2 separate regions of the Homo sapiens genome follow, and region 1 is linked to region 2. Evidence: fine-mapped expression QTL. Tissue or cell type: whole blood. Region 2 holds a variant in brackets; the other region holds the start of a gene. All regions are shown on one strand. Distances are between the middles of the regions.

Evidence for each region. PIP is the estimated chance that this variant, and not a neighbour inherited with it, causes the effect.
Region 1: it holds the start of ADHFE1, and the variant in region 2 is fine-mapped to the expression of ADHFE1 in whole blood (INTERVAL, PIP above 0.99).

Annotation. Positions count from the first base shown.
Region 1 is chr8:66,431,169-66,433,668 of GRCh38, forward strand. ADHFE1 (alcohol dehydrogenase iron containing 1) reads left to right here and starts at 1,336. Exons shown (of 14, transcript NM_144650.3): 1 at 1,336-1,407. The coding sequence starts at 1,349. It overlaps LOC102724687 (a long non-coding RNA gene), which reads right to left and starts at 1,198. Exons shown (of 5, transcript XR_929013.3): 1 at 1,116-1,198. RefSeq lists a silencer at 1,170-1,589.
Region 2 is chr8:66,467,088-66,470,067 of GRCh38, forward strand. ADHFE1 (alcohol dehydrogenase iron containing 1) reads left to right here. Exons shown (of 14, transcript NM_144650.3): 14 at 1,182-1,820. The coding sequence ends at 1,265. Among named protein-coding and RNA genes, the nearest start is that of VXN, 25 kb to the right of the region's middle. The variant T/C (reference allele first, on the strand shown) is at 1,541.

The sequences.
Region 1 (2,500 bases), 36 kb before region 2:
TTATACTTCTTTTGGTATCAAATATAATATTCAAAGTAGTAAAACTGATGTCTGTTTTTTAAAAAGATTTTATGCCTTTCAACACTGAACACATGGATTTCCTGTAAATGATCAATTTGGGCTTCATTGACTAATGGTAATAATCCTCATTAATCCAGAAAACACTTAAATCTTTCTCTACGTTTATATCCCCAGTTGTTTGTGTGTGTGTGTTTGTTTTTAAGCTTGACGTCAGGTATAGTTTTGTTTGGGGGAAGAAAGAAACAGACCCATAAGATCCTTAATTAGGACATTATTATCTTTTTTTAAGTTCCGGAGTAGATGTGCAGGATGTGCATGTTTGTTACATAGGTAAACGTGTGCTGTGGTGGCTTGCTGCACCTATCAACCCATCACCTAAGTATTAAGTCCCTCTGCCCCCTTCTATCCCCTGCCCCCAGGCCCCAATGTGTGTTGTTCCCCTCCCTGTGTACATGTGTTCTCATAGAACATTATTTTTTGATTCATTTGTCAAGTTGGCCTGAGCTGGTTTGATTAGGAGGTGAAATGTTTATATAGCTGTCCTTGGTCTTCCTGTCCATCAATCTTTTCCAGTTTGATCGCAGTAAATTCATTTCTGTAAAACTTAATATCTCCCATAAAGGATTCAGATTTCATAATAACAGATTACTAAAAATGCAAATGTTTAGTTGTTACTGTCTTTGGATACTTTCTGATAAAGTTGAGCTTTATCGTTAATCAGCTTTTCCACTGGGACATGGCAGATATGGCACAGCCAAGCCCTCCCGGAGCATAGTCTAATCATGGCAAGTTTTAACTATTGATGTAAGAGTTTTAACTATTGATTTTGCTTTCATCAAAAGCAAAGCCATTCACACAGTATTTAACAAAAACCCTCGGGCTCTGCTAGGTTCTTGTTTACTGTTAAAACAGTTTAAAGGCAGGGTCTTGATCACTTAAAATACTCTTAGAAGGGAAAGTAACATTTTAAAGGATTAACAGTGGAAAAAGAATATCCCTGTTCCTCTTCCTTCCCCCAAGTCCTCAACATGTGAAAAATAGAGTTGATAAGTAAGGAGATTTAAGGCAGAACCCGAGGCCTACGGAGCAGTTACCTTCTACGGCAATTTCAAGGGTGGATGGTGCGAGCGCCGCTGGGGCAGCTGGCGTTCTGGTTCTTACTCCGTGGGAAAATGGCCCTGAGCCCGACTGGCTTGAGGCTTAGACAGGTGACCCCGCGAAGCGGGTGGGCAGGCGCGGCCGAGGGGCGGGAGGCGGGCAGCCTCCGTGATTGGCCGGCGGAGGGGGCGGTGTAGCGACCCGAGGAGGGAAGAGGACTCCAAGCGCCATGGCCGCTGCCGCCCGAGCCCGGGTCGCGTACTTGCTGAGGCAACTGCAACGCGCAGCGTGAGTGCGGGGCCGGCGGGCGGGCAGGGGACCGCAGGGTGCCCACGCAGCCCCCTGGGTGTGACCCGCTCAGATCCTGCGCAGTCTTCTCCGCTTACTTTCAAGAATTCGGAGAATTTGGATACCGCCCTGGGCTCCCACCGCGCGCCAGGCGGAACAGCGAGGTCACAGAGTGCGCGATGCAGCCTCTCAGGGCGCAGTGAGGCAGCCTTTACTCTGCTTGTCTACCGTTAAAGAAACTGAGGCCCAGAGAGGACCTGGTCCCACATCGTAGCAGGCAGTGGAGAGCTTGGCACGGTGGCCAAGACAAATTCATGTATGCAATTGACACATATTTATTGGGCATATATTATGTGCCAAAAACTATTCTAGGTTCTGGGGATACAAAGATGAAAGGCTCTGGAGCAGTTTGAGGTCTAGTGGGGAATGGGATGAGGGGACGAGGCTAAAACCGGCTATAGCAGACTGGGTGTAGAAGGGAAGGATGGATGTGAGAAGTCGCAGAGTCACACTTCCTGGCATGTACAGGGAGTCAGGGTATTCAATGTCATGACACGCCTGCCTCCCAGCAGAAATGTGAGGTACATCCTGGTCACCTGATAAATACTTGCTGACTGTGCAAGTGCACAAGTCTGCCTGGGAAACATGGAAAAGTTTGAGCTCACAGGTGCAGATCAGTAGGAGGAAAGGCGAGGGACTGGCGAGGAACGTCAGGCAGAGAGAAGAGCAACACCAGCGATGGAGATGCAGTCCCAGGACACAAAAGACAAGTAGACCTACCTTTATAAGAGGAGGTAAAGATGGAGAAGACGGCTGATAAAAGACCATGAATAAGAATATAGCTAATACGATGAGCCCGGCAGTGTCTTACACACTTTGAATGGACTATCAGTATAATAGTAACTCTAATCCTTTCACTGACCCTATGACACACGGTATTGTCATCCTCATAGATACGGAAATAAAGGCATGGAGAAGAATTTGTCCAGTGTCACACAGCTAAGCAAATGGCACAGTCATAATTTGAACCCAGATACTCTGGCTTCACAGTCCTTGTTCTTAGGCCTGTAGTAAGGAATTTGAATTGTGTGCT
Region 2 (2,980 bases):
AGTGGAAACAGACCTTTCAGGAAGCTTCTCAAGCTGGACAGGCGAGTGATAGCAGTGTCCTGGATTCCGGTTGTGGTACCACAGGAGGTGAGAAGCGCTCTGACTGGGGCTTCATTTTGGAAGTAGGACTGACACTCCTGCTGATGAGTTGAACTTGCAGAGCAAGGGAAAGGGGAATCAAGTGTGGCTCCTGGGTTTTGCCTGAGCTACTGGGTGTCATTTCTGAGATGAGAAAATGGTAGGAGCGGTGGGGTGGGAGAGTCAGAGTTCTATCTTGTATATGTGAACTTTGAGACTCCAGTATCCCCCTCCCCACCATCTTCACTAATTCAGCAGATAACTGTTGAGCATCTACTTACTATGTAAAGCCCTCTGGTAGGCGCAGGGCAGAGAGCAGTGCACACAGCTGAGCCCCTGGCCTCACAAGTTTCCCTTCCACTAGCTACACTCCCAAACACATGCCAGCAATAGAAAACATGCCCAGAGACCCATGAAAATGGAACCTCAAAATGGACATTCCTCAGTTTCATGCAGGTGCCAGGGGAGTCATCGCTGTACATTTTAGCCCCTGTCCCCGAGAAGCTACTGACCAGAGTATAAATAGAAGTAGGATGTGCTGGATGTCTTCGCTGAATTGACTCAATAATCATTGGAGAAATTAACAAATCACTGGATTTGCTTGGGAACATAGAGATAAAACCTTAGTTAATAGAAAAAAACGGAGTCACTTGTTGCACATAGCATGAACATTAATGTTCTACTGAAGTCCTTTTGAATATGCCTTAAGTCCAAGTTGCAAAATACATGGTCTTAGACTTCGGGGACGACCCAGTTCTCTCTCAGAGCTCTGTGTGTACAGAGAACCTGGCAGAGGTGGTTGACTGACCTAGTTTTGTCATGATAAGGGTGTTTTCCCCAAGATTGGTTTCGGCAGAAGGCTGTTGCCAGGGCGTAAGGCAAGGGGCAGTGGCTTTCGAAAGCTCTGTGGGGAAAGAGGTATGATGTGATAAACCTCTGAGATGGGGATCAACTCATATGAAGTATACAAGAAATACCGTTTTTAAAGATATGGCGTTTATCAAGTCATTGATTCTTATGACCAAGTTAATTTCCATAACTTTGTAGCTTTTACAAACTGCCTTTTCAAAGCCCTGGGTAACTTCTTTCATTTACTGTTTCAGGAAAGGGTCACCAAGCTTGCACCCTGTCCCCAGTCAGAAGAGGATCTGGCTGCTCTGTTTGAAGCTTCAATGAAACTGTATTAATTGTCATTTTAACTGAAAGAATTACCGCTGGCCATTGTAGTGCTGAGAGCAAGAGCTGATCTAGCTAGGGCTTTGTCTTTTCATCTTTGCGCATAACTTACCTGTTACCAGTATAGGTGGGATATACATTTATCTTGCAGGAAATTCCCCAAAGCTCAGAGTCCAGTTCCTTCCATAAAACAGGCTGGACAAATGACCACTATGTTAGACCCCCAGGCTCGACTTCAGGGGTCAGTGTTCCTGTCCCAAACCCCACACAGAATACTCTGCCTCTG[T/C]TTCATGTAGCAAATGAGCAAAAACTCAGTATCTATCAAAAGTGTAAATTATATTTCCTATGCCTAGTAATTCACTTCATGTCTAAAAATTTATCTGATAGAAACACTAGCACCAGTACATACAGAAGCATGGCAAGGATGTTTCTGGCAGCACTTTTCTAATAATAAAAGATTTGAAACAACCTTAAGTATTCATTATTGGTATATAGATCACTTATAGTATACTAGACAGTGGAATACTATGGTACTGTTAATAAAGATGAAGTAAATCTCTTGGAAATGAGTCCATAATATACTGGGAAGTTGGCAGAAAGCAAGCTACCAAATAATTATATATTAGTATGATCTGATTTTTACTTTTTCAATTATACATAAACATATATCTACATATACATACAAAAGAAAGATACACATCAAAATTTAAAAGTTATTACTGGAGAAATGGAATTTGGGGTGTGGAGAACTAAGAGAAAATGTTCACTTTATTTATTTATTTATTCATTTATTCATTTATTTTTATTTATTTTTTTGAAATGGAGTCTTGCCCTGTCTCCCAGGCTGGAGTACAGTGGTACGTTCTCGGCTCACTGCAACCTCCACCTCCTGGGTTCAAGTGATTCTCCTGCCTCAGCTTCCTGAGTAGCTATTTATTTATTTTTTGAGACAGGGTCTCACTCCTATTGCCCAGGCTGAAGTGCAGTGGTACAATCATGACTCGCTGCAGCCTCCACTTCCCGGGCTCAGGTGATCCTCCCATCTCAATCTGCTGAGTAGCCGGGACTACAGGCATGCACCACCATGCCTGACTTATTTATTTATTTATTTTTGTATTTTTTGTAGACACGGGGTGTCGCCATGTTGCCCAGGCTGGTCTCAAACTCCTGAGCTCCAGTGATCCTCTCGCCTTGGCCTCCCAAAGTCCTGGGATTACAGGCATGAGCCACCACTCCCAGCCTCATTTTTTATTTTATAAACTTCTGTATTGTTTGGATTTGCTACAACAAGCATATATTACTTTTCTAACATTTATAAAAGAGAAGGGAAAGGAAAGAAAAATGTCATTTTAATGTTTTAGGTCAGATTCGTTTTATTTTATAAAAATACTAGTAACGTATTTAAAAGGTAAAAACAAATCCACAGGGGTAAAATATTAGAGACCAATCCTCTGGTGAATAAGTTGGTTTTTTTGTTTTGTTTTGTTTAAAAAAAAAAAAACAAAAACAAAAACAAAAAGCAAAAACTAACATCCTACATGGTTATTCCCTCTGGAAAAATGTTTCTGGTGCTCTGAATACATTAATTCGAAAAGAAGCAGTTTTGTAGGTTACAGATTACAGCATGCAAGTAGAATCCAACTAGTGTGATACTCTTCCTCCCTTTTATTCCCAGGCTACAGAAACCTGGACAGCTCATTTTTCCTTTCAAAAGTTAACCCACTGA